3 linked regions of the Homo sapiens genome follow. The protein of the gene in region 2 purifies or fractionates together with the protein of the main gene of each other region. This does not show direct contact. Each region holds a gene or a part of one and is shown on either strand. Other genes may lie near its edges. The genes, in order: RHBDF2, FAM131C and AGPAT2.

What was found.
Region 1: the proteins of FAM131C (region 2) and RHBDF2 purify together in Homo sapiens (affinity purification with mass spectrometry; one large-scale study listed by BioGRID and IntAct). This does not show direct contact.
Region 3: the proteins of FAM131C (region 2) and AGPAT2 purify together in Homo sapiens (affinity purification with mass spectrometry; one large-scale study listed by BioGRID and IntAct). This does not show direct contact.

What each region holds. Positions count from the first base shown.
Region 1 is NC_000017.11:76,480,907-76,484,552, forward strand, and holds part of RHBDF2 (inactive rhomboid protein 2), read right to left. Parts: intron 640-3,646; 5' UTR 619-639; coding exon 469-618; intron 1-468. UniProt on the Homo sapiens protein: Regulates ADAM17 protease, a sheddase of the epidermal growth factor (EGF) receptor ligands and TNF, thereby plays a role in sleep, cell survival, proliferation, migration and inflammation. Does not exhibit any protease activity on its own.
Region 2 is NC_000001.11:16,067,059-16,070,704, forward strand, and holds part of FAM131C (protein FAM131C), read right to left. Parts: intron 1-3,646.
Region 3 is NC_000009.12:136,677,406-136,681,051, forward strand, and holds part of AGPAT2 (1-acyl-sn-glycerol-3-phosphate acyltransferase beta), read right to left. Parts: intron 152-3,646; coding exon 18-151; intron 1-17. UniProt on the Homo sapiens protein: Converts 1-acyl-sn-glycerol-3-phosphate (lysophosphatidic acid or LPA) into 1,2-diacyl-sn-glycerol-3-phosphate (phosphatidic acid or PA) by incorporating an acyl moiety at the sn-2 position of the glycerol backbone.

The sequences.
Region 1 (3,646 bases), on a different chromosome or scaffold from region 2:
GAGCTCTTTATGGGGCACTAGACCAGACTGTCAGAAACACTGATCTGTTCTCGTCCTCCCAAAGGAAGCGGACACTGCCTAGGCGGGCTGCTGATGCCAGGGAGACACTGTCCCCTGCTCACCCATGTCAAAGAAAGCCCCCAGCCCTCAGAAGAGAGACTGAGAGTCCAGGCCTAGGGGGTGAAATGAGAACAGCCAGGGCCCCAGGGTTACCAGCAAGCACTTTCTTGGGGCTGGCCCTTCCTGTGTGCCCCTGACCACGATGAGAGTGAGCCCGGTTCCTGGCTTTACTCCCTGTGATATTTCGGGCCCAGGAAGGAGGGGGTAGGGCCCGAGTCAAGGGCTGCACAGACAGCAGCTGTGGCTCAGGAAGGAGCCCCTCTGGGAAGTGAAACTGACCAGAAAGTGTCACGTGGGTACATCTGTTACCTACGGCAGAACAGTGAGCCCCCAGGCCAGCCCCCTTACCTCAGGCAGCATGCTGTCCTGCTCGCCAGGGGCCTGGGTCTCTTTCTCGGGTGGCGGGATGGTGATGGAGAGGTTGGGTGGCTTCCGGCTCTGCAGGCGGCTGCTGGACACAGAGGACACGCTCCCGCCATTCTTGTCAGCAGAGGCCATTGTGGGCAGGAGGCGGGAGGGCTGGAATGGAGACCGGGAGAGCAGCGGTGGGCGGTGCGGGGTGGCGCAGTGTCAGGACCCTGACGCCAGGGCACGCAGCCCAGACCAAGAACCAACTTGCCTAAAGTTGGTTCAAACATCTCTGGGCGGCTGGGCGCGGTGGCTCACGCCTGTAATCCCAGCACTTTGGGAGGCCGAGGTGGGGGGATCACGAGGTCAGGAGATCGAGACCATCCTGGCCAACATGGTGAAACCCCGTCTCTACTAAAAATACAAAAAATTAGCTAGGCGTGGTGGCACGTGCCTGTAATCCCAGCTACTCGGGAGGCTGAGGCAGGATGGCTTGAACCCAGGAGGCAGCGGTTATAGTAAGCCGAGATCGCGCCACTGCACTCCAGCCTGGCGACAGAGCAAGACTCTGTCTGAAAACACACACACACACACACACACACACACACACACACACACACACACACACAAAACCAAAAACAAACCATCCCTGGGGACTAAACCCAGCCTGAACCAGGCTGAACCTCAGGCCCAGTGGTTGGAGTGAGGTCTATTTCTGACCATCATTTGCATCCCGGACCATATGGGTCTGGGAGGTCCTCAACTTACTACCTCATTCAATTTCTGATCTCTCCGCTTGAGGCAAGAACCAAACCCTGAAAAGAGCATGAAGATGCAGGCCAGGGACGGTGGCTCACACCTGTAATACCAGCACTTGGGGAGGCCGAGGTGGGCCGAGAGATGAGAAACCTACTGTGCTGGTCCCTGTCCCCCAAGGCCACCCAGTTTATTTTTCTTGTCTTTTTTCTGTAGAGGTGGGGGTCTCTCCATGTTAGCCAGGCTGGTCTGGAACTCCTGGGCTTAAGCCATCTGCCTGCCTTGGCCTCCCAAGTGCTGGGATTACAGGTGCAAGCTCACTGTGCCCAGCCCCAGTTCATTTTTCAAAGATAACTAAAACTGGCTGGGTGCGTGGCTCATGCCTGTAATCCCAGCACTTTGGGAGGCCGAGGTAGGTGGATCACCTGAGGTCAGGAGTTTGAGACCAGCCTGGCCAACATGGTAAAACCCTGTCTCTACTAAAAATACAAAATTAGCCAGGTGTGGTGGCGCATGCCTATAATCCCAGCTACTTGGGAGGCTGAGGCACGAGAATTGCTTGAACCCAGGAGGCAGAGGTTGCAGTGAGCCAAGATCATGCCACTGCACTCCAGCCTGGGCGACAGAGTGAGAAAATGTCTCAAAAAAAAAAGATAACTGAAACTGCCACCTGTCTGGCACTTTTCTCCCCCATAGTGAGAACACTGTTTAACAATAAAAGTGGCATATGCTCATTGAAAAAAAAAAAAAATCACACAGCTGTGTGTGGTGGCTTACACGTACAATCCCAACACTTTGGGAGACCAAGGTGGATGGATCACTTAAGGTCAGGAGTTCGAGACTAGCCTGGCCAACACAGTGAAACACCATCTCTACTAAAATACAAAAATTAGCCAGGCATAGTGCCTCATTCCTGTAGTTCCAGCTACTCGGGAGGCTGAGGCAGGAGAATCACTTGAACCCGAGAGGAAGAGATTGCTGTGAGCCAATCTCATTGCACCCTCCACCTCCCAGGTTCAAGCAATTCTCTTGCCTCAGCCTCCCAAGTAGCCGGGGTTATGGGCGTGAGCCACCAAGCCCAGCCCACACTCTATCATTTTACCTGCATTGTAGACATCTTTCCCTGTCAACACATACGGACAGACCTACTTTTTTTCTTTTTTCTTTTTTTTTGTGATGGGGTCTCATTCTGTCACCCAGATTGGAGTGCAGTGGCGCGATCTCGGCTCACCGCAACCTCCACCTCCCAGGTTCAAGTGATTCTCCTGCCTCAGCCTCCCAAGAAGCTCGGATTACGGGCATGCGCCACCACGCCCAGCTAATTTTGTATTTTTAGTAGAGATGGGGTTTCTCCATGTTGGTCAGGCTGGTCTCGAACTCCTGACCTCAGGTGATCCACCTGCCTCGGCCTCCCAAAGTGCTGGGATTACAGGTTTCAGCCACCACACCCGGCCCTAGGCCTCTTGTCTTTTTTGATGAATGCAAAGATTTCATAAGTGGAATGCACCAAGATTTACTTAAGTCCAGACTGCTGGTTATTTAGGATGTTTCCGGAATTTGAGACATGGGTCTGATGTTGCAACTAACACCCTTGCATACACCGCGTGTGCTTGTTTAACTATTACAAGACCAAGTTCTGGAAGCAGAATGGCTGGGTTGAAGAGTAAGTACATCCCAAATTTCAGTGGCTGTTGCCCAGTACCCCATCTGGGGCTTTCCTGTGCGTGTGCCACCAGTCCCCAGTTCCCCTCTGACTCCACCAGAATTAACACCCTCTGCCTGTTTCATTCTCTTCGTTTCGTCTCTTGCTCTGCCCCATGACCGTCTTCTTGTTAAAACCCCCAGCTGTGGCCGGGCGCGGTGGCTCATGCCTGTACTCCCAGCACTTTGGGAGGCCAAGGTGGGCAGATCACCTGAGGTCGGGAGTTCGAGACCAGCATGACCAACATGGAGAAACCCCGTCTCTACTAAAAATACAAAAAATTAGCTGGGTGTGGTGGCGCATGCCTGTAATCTCAGCTACTCGGGAGGCTGAGGTAGGAGAATTGCTTGAACCCGGGAGGCAGAGGTTGCAGTGAGCCGAGATTGCACCATTGCACTCCAGCCTGGGCAACAAGAGCGAAACTTCGTCTCAAAAATAAAAATAAAAATAAAAATAAACCCCCCCAGCTGTTTCCTCTCCTTCACATCCCAAGGTTCCTGGGCAAGTTTTGTTTTTCCTCTCCTTGTACGAAGCCAGGGACTCCATACCCATCTCCCTGGGAGCCCTTCAGCCAAGGGCGTGTGTGGGCTGAGGCGTGGCATGCACGGGTCGGCGAGACAGCAGCCATCTGAACCTGTCCTCCTCCTCCATCTCTACCTCACCTCCACCATCTCCACCTCACCTCCACCATCTCCTCACCTGGAGGCTCACTCCACTCTC
Region 2 (3,646 bases):
GCCTGGCAGAGGCATGACTTGAACAAGGTCATTTGTTGAGACGGTGGTGGGCTTGGAGGACTCCTGGCTCCCACCCCCTCCCCAGCCCGCCTGGCTCCCCACCTCAGTTGGGGTTCAGGTGCCTCCACCAAAGCTGCCTGCTCCCCCTGAGGACTTTGGCCCCATGATGTCACAGGCTGGTTGCCATGGGGACGTCAGGTAATGAACCAGCCCAGGGTGAAATCACAGGCTGTTCTTCGCCCAGCTGGGACTGGTGGTCACGTCACCACTGGCAACTGGAAAAACACAGAGTGTCATGTGGGGTGGGGGCTGGGAGGCAGCCCGAAGGGACCGCTAGCACCTGCTCCTGTGGCTCCCTCTCCCAGAAGGACACCCCCTTTCTTTCAGTCCACACCCTAGTCTCCTGACCTCAAGGTCAGAATTCCCTTCTCAGACCTGCTCCCTCCCCCACCTCCTCTGTCCACAAGAGTGACAGGCTTCTGGCTGCCATGGCAACCTGGAGAGGGCCATCTTGATTCTTCAAGGAGAGGGTGTCAACCAGATGTCTCCTCCATCCCTCTGTCTTCAACCAGAGCTTCTCCTCTGCATCTTGAGGGTGCTTCCTGCCTTCCTATGCCAGCTCCTCTTCAATCTGCTTTAGAGTCTAACCTCCCAGACAGTTCCTCCTGATGTCTAGCCTAAACCCCTCTTGTTGCAGTTCCCATACTGGTTGGTCTTCTCTACTTGATCCTTGGGTGAGTCTGCAGCACAACCCCTCAGGCTCCTCTCGTCTGCTTCAGGGCCTTCCAACTCCTTTAAGCTGTTCTCTGGGGCTCCGTGTCCCAACCCATTAGTCACCATGGTTGCCATCTACCCCAAGAGTGCCTCCCAGGGCTCTGCACCCCAGAGGGCAGAGAGGGACCGTGTTTGACTCTGCAGCAGCCCAGGGAGGGTAAATATCCTCTCAAAACCACACAGAAACTGAGCAGCAGCCTGGGGTCAAAGCGTCCCCTCATGCTCCTCCCCGGCCAGCCTCGGGCTTCTCTGCTCAGCTTCTCAGGGCACCTGCAGCCGATGCGGCCCCTCTAGCCAACCATTGCCCGGGTGTGTACTGCCCAGCTGTGATGTGCCGGGCTCTGCCCTTGGCTCTGAAGAGAACGTAAGCGGCCAAGGCATTCCTCTTACGGTCCCTGAGCTGGGTTTAAGTCCCCGCTTCTCACTTTCCGCTGCAGGGGGTGGGCATGGGACTTAGCCCCTGTGAGCCTTGGATTCTCATCTGTGAAATAATACCAGCCCAGAAAGGGCTGCAGCAAGGAGGAAGCACCTGCCACAGCAAGCAGTCCGTAAGCAGCAGCCGCTCCACCCCTCTCCCCTCAGTGTCTCTCTCTGGACAATGGGACACATCTTGGTCAGCCACTCCTCTGGTCCTGTCCCCAGGGCTGGAGCTGGCTCTGGAGGCTCCGCAGAGGGAAGCCCTTGAGGGTGAGTCCTTGGCCGCTCTGCCTGTTGAGTCACTGCCAGGGGAGCAGGCCACAGAGCTTGGCAGAGGCCAGGCCTCGAGTGGACTGAGTGTCCCCTCCTCCCCAGGACATTTGTTTACAGGTCACCTGAGCCGTGACAATAGCTCATCTGTGGGTTGGCTCAGCTCAGAGCTATCCAAGGGGGTCCCTTTCTCTCCCCGTGCAAGGATGGAGAGAGAAAATGGGCTCCTCCCCAGGACTTCCACACACCCCAGCTCCTCCCCACTTCCTTCCCCAGGCTCCCTCCCATCCTGTGACCTGGCCTCTGGGAACATCTTGCTCCAGCCTCACCTCCCACAAGCAACCTGCCCAGATTGGCCTCTGCTGGATTAGGTACCTCACCTGTGGTCCTAATGGCCAAAGTCTGGCCTGCAGTGATTTGCCGCCACTGTTTACTGAGCAGGTGTGACAGTACTGTGTCAGGTACTGTCTGTCCTAGGCCTGTTCACCCATGATCTCTCATTTAACCCACACAACAATCCTGCAAAGTACATGTTATGCCCATTTTACAGATAGGGAAACGGAGGCTCAGAGAGGATAAATCACTTATGCAAGGTCACCTGCTAATAAGCAGCAGAGATGAGGGTCACACTTCGGCCCTTGTGAAACTCCAAAGCTTGTGCCCCAACCACTAAACAGTGCTGATCTCCAGACAGGGTCCTCGGGGCATCCTTCCAAGGGTTCATGCATACTGCCTCCCCCATTAGGCTACTCCACGGGCAAAGCTGTACCTCTCTCATCAGACTGTGAGCTCCCGAAGGGCAAGGTCCCACCTACCCTTTCCTCAGTGCCTGGTGTAGGACTGCTCAGGACTTGGAAACTATGGGTGGCTCTGGTCGGCCCCCTTAGAGCTTGTGCCTTCACCCAGACATGATCAGATGTCTGAGTTTCCAGAAGAAAATTCTCGGTCTCTAATTTCTACTCTCACCCCCGACCCCACCGGCCCCCAGTGCATTGGATACCCCCAAGGTGGGGCCAGGAGGCTGATCAGTTGGCCTGGAGGAGAGGGCTGGGGCATGAGTGAGGAGGCAGAGTGGTTATGGCACCAAGGGCATGGAGCGGGTACTGAGCCCCTGGAACTGGAGAGAAGGGGGGCAAATATTCCTCTCTGTTCCATACAGACTGCCATTGGTTGCAGAGCCCCCAACAAATAGGGACCATTCAAGTGTTCCAAGAGGTTGTTTTTCTAAGCACTGGCCATATACTTAGCACCTCTTTTTGTTTTTGAGACAGGGTCTTTGTTGCCCAGGCTAGAGTGCGGTGGAGTAATCACAGCTCACTGCAGCTTCGACCTCCTGGGTTCAAGCCATCCTCCTGCCTCAGCCTCCCAAATAGCTGGGACTACCAGCACACACCACCACAGCTAGGTAATTTTTAAAAAGTTTTTTGTAGAGATGGGGTCTCACTATGTTGCACAGGCTGGTCTTGAACTCGTGGGCTCAAGCGATCCTCCCGCCTCAGCCTCCCAGTATTTAGATTATAAGCGTGAGCCATAGCACCTCTCTCTCTATAGGGACGTAAGAAAGCAAAGGACGGGGTTTCCACACTCAGGCTCTGGGGTCACATTGACCTGGATTCAAGTCCTGCCTCTCCATGCCCTGGCCATGTGACCTGAGGGAAGACCCTCCCGTTCTCTGAGCCCCACATCCCTTGTCACAGGGTTGAATGAGAACTAACTAGGTCAGGAGAGCAAAGGCTCAGCCTAGCTCAGGATAAGCGCTCAACAAACGGTAGCTTAAAAATAGATAATGAATGCAAAATAGCTCCTGGAAACAGCATTTGTTGCCTTAATCTGGTCCCAATCACTTTCTCAATGTCCTCAGCACCTCGAGTGCCTGCCACCCGCTGCCTTTCCCATGAGGCAGGATGTGGCTTAAAACCTCTGTAGGTTTCCCCTTCCAGCCATGAAGGCCCACATTAGCTGTCTGCACAGACAGGTAATAAAAATTAAAGGCCGGGTGCAGTGGCTCACACCTGTAATCCCAGCACTTTGGGAGGCCGAGGTGGGAGGGTGGCTTGAGGCCAGGAGTTCGAGATAAGCCTGGGCAACATAGTGAGAGCCTGTCTCTATTATAATATATACAATATTAAAATTAAAAGTAAAAATGAGAGCAATAGCTAATATGTACGAGTGCTTACTATGTGTT
Region 3 (3,646 bases), on a different chromosome or scaffold from region 2:
CCCGAGGCCCGGCCTACCCATCATGTCCAGGATGCTCTGGTGGTTGGAGACGATGACACAGGGACGGGCCTCCTGCAGCCTGCGCGGGTCCCGCACCTCGAAGCGGAGCCCGTAAAAGTACTTGAAGCTTCGCACGAACCAGCCGATGATGCTGCAGGGGAGGCCACCATGAACACGGGTCCCACAGATCCCGCAGCCGAGGCTGGGGCGCGAAGGCCTGGGGGTGGGGTGTGGAGGAGGCTGGGGAGGGGCCCTCCTGGCACGGGGCAGGAGACCGGGAGACACAGGGGAGGGAGCCCCTGAAGCGGACAGAGTCCCGGGCCCGGCTCACCCACCTGGACGGCTGCCCTGCCTCCGTCTCCCCAGCAACAGAGGAAAACCCAGAGCCTCTGGAACTCGGATGCTAGGAGCATGGGAAGGCGCCCACTTCCAAATCCACATCCAGGGCCCACCCAGCCCTCATCCACCCCACAGGGGACCCAGCCGGAAAGGAACTGGCACTGGCTCTCACGTCCGCTATGAAGGACCCACGTCGGGGAGAGCAGCCTCTGCACCCCAGCAGAGGAAATGGGGCCCCACACACCCTGGGGAAGGTCACTGGCCCCTCAAGGCAGGGCCACATCAGGAAGAAAGTGTCGGCGCCAGTGGAGACCTCTGAAACGACCTCCGAAAGGTTCTTCCAGAAAAGAGCCGAGACCGAGACCCTCTCTCACCCCTACCCTACAGAATCAGGCCGGTTCCCTTTCCCCGTGAAGAGGCGGCGAGGGGCTCGGGGCTTGTCTGAGGTCACACCAGGAGCAGCAGCAGAGCCAGGGTCTGGGCCACCTGAGCCCTGGCCACAGCAGCCCCCACTCTGGCAGGGGCCCAGCCCACTGGGGGCTGCCCTTGGAGCACCTGCAAATGTGAGGTGGCCTTGTCCAAGCAGCCCGTCATGGTTGGGACCAGGGATGTCCAAGGGGTACCCGAAGACTCTGACCAGCTCCGAGCGTCCCAACCTCTGCCCTGCTGTGCTGCCAGGAAGCTCTGGGCACACCCCAGATAGGGCACCCCATCACAGGGCAGCCGGCGGGGATGGAGCCAGGAGGACGGAGCTCCACTCCGAAGCTCCAGCAGGGGTGGATGGCCGGGGCAAGGCTGTGCCAGCGCTGACTGGGGGGCTGCCAGTGCTGCTCCCCTCTCCATGCAGACTAGTGCCCCCCACCATTTGATCCCCCAGCAGTCCTAAGGGCCCCACACTTTCTACAGATGAGTCTGAGTAACTGCCCCAGGCCACAGAGCAGAGATTCAAAGCCGGGGCCTTCTCTCAAAGCCATACTGGTGGGGATTTTTGTTGTTTTAACAGGGTCTTGCTCTGTCACCCAGGCTCCCCTTGCTCTGTCTTGCTCTGTGACACAATGTGTCACATTGTGCAGTGTCACAATCTGGGCTCACTCCAGCCTCCACCTCCTGGGCTCCTCCCACCTCAGGCTCCTGACTAGCTGGGACCACAGACGTGAGCCACCACACCTCGCTAGTTTTTGTATTTTTGGTACAGATGGGCTTTCACCATCTCTGGCCAGGCTGGTCTCGAACTCCTAGGCTCAAACAACCTGCCGACCTCGGCCTCCCAAAGTGCTGGGCTTACAGGCCTGAGCCAACTCGCCCGGCCTTTAAAAAAAAATTGTGGTAAAATACACGTAACATAAAATGTATCTCCTTGGCCTTTTCCGGGTGCACAGTTCATGGGCGCTGGGCACATTCGGTGTCTAGCAGCCATCTCCTCCCTCTATCTCCAGAACTCTCCACCTTCTCTGGCTGACGTCTGTTCCCATGCGACACAAACCCCTGTCCCCTCCCCAGCCCTGGCACTCTGCCCTTCCATGTGTGAGCCCAGGCCTGCGGCAGCACCACCTCAGGCTGATGGGGCAATGCTCATGACCCCCTGTTGCAGATGGGGAAACTGAGTCAAGGGGGGCCTAATGGTTAATTCTGGTGATGAGTCCAGCCGTCCGTCCCTGGACTTGGAAGCCTGGGGCCTCCTCAGATCTGCCTTCCTCAGCCAACTCTAGATATCTCCTCTCCAGGCCGCGCCGGCCACCGTCCCCTCCCACCCAGAAGGCACACCCGGGCTGGTAGCACCCGCACACTCAGGGGAACTGCAGGGCTGTTTTGCCTCCACACTCATTTGCGCAATCCAGCTTCCCGGACCCCTGTGACGCTCCAAGAAGACGAGGAGGCAAAAGCCGGCAGTTCACCAACAGGAAACACAGAACTGTCTGGTGCTAGCAAGACGGCCGTGTCGCCAATCAAAGAAGCGCAAATGGAAACAAGAGACTGTCCTCATCCTTCCCCCTGGCACAGATTAAAACGCCTGATAACAGGAGGTGCCAGCCAGGGTGTTGGGAACAGGCCCAGCGGCTGGCAGGAGTGAGGAGTCGCACAGACAAGATACTTCTGTGGAGGGCAGGTTGGCAGGCCCGGCCAGAGCCCTGAGGAAACCTGGCCCCTCCCCTCTCAGAATCTTCCAGGAATTCGCCCGACGGCTGGAGTGAGAAGCCTGTGGTGCTGAAGTGTGCAGTGAATTAGGAAAACCTGAAAATGCTTAAATAGCCACCAGTAGAAAGAGGGAAAGTAAATTAGGGTCCATTTCACAGACAGCTGGGGCGCGGGGAAAGAACAGGACAGGTCCACACTCATCTCCTGTGAAGGACATGTGTATGATTTCTAGCAGCAGCCAAGACACACCTGCAATTCCAAAGCTAGCTGCCTGCAGGAGGCTCGGGCCACATCTGAAAGGGACATTGGTTCCCTCTGGTAGTGACATTGGCCAGTTCCATCTTTTATTTACTTTTTTATTTTTGAGACAGGGTCTCACTCTGTCACCCAGACTGGAGTGCAGTGGTGTGATCTCAGCTCACTGCAACCTCTGCCTCCCGGGTTCAAGCAATTCTCCTGCCTCAGCCTCCTGAGTAGCTGGGATTACAGGTGCCTGCCACCAGGCCTGGCTAGTTTTTGTATTTTTAGTAGAGACGGGGTTTCACCATGTTGGCCAGGCTGGTCTCGAACTCCTGACCTCAGGTGATCCTCCCACCTCGGCCTCCCAAAGTGCTGGGATTACAGGTGTGAGCCACCGCGCCCGGCCAGCTAGTTTCTTAGTGTTAACAACTGCATCTTGGTGATGTAAGATGTTAACAAGGGAGGAAACTGGTGAGGGCCACATGGGGTCCCCCGTAATATCTTTGCAACTTCTCTGTAAATCTGAAATTATTAAAAAATAAGATCTTCATTTATTTTTTATTTTTTTTGAGACGGAGTCTTGCTGTCACCTAGGCTGGAGTGCAGTGGCGAGATCTCAGCTCACTGCCATTTCCACCTCCCGGCAAGCGATTCTCCTGCCTCAGCCTAGCAAGTAGTTGGGACTACTGGTGTGCGCCACCACACCCGGCTAATTTTTGTATTTTTAGTAGAGACGGGGTTTCACCATGTCGGCCAGGCTGGTCTCAAACTCCTGACCTCATGATCCGCCCGCCTCGGCCTCCCAAAGTGCTGGGATGACAGGAAGGAGCCAGCGCGCCGAGCCCTCCTCTGTTTTGATTGTGGTATAACACGCACCACCTAAACAATATAATTGTACCCATTTCTCAGCACACGGTTCCGTGGCACTCGG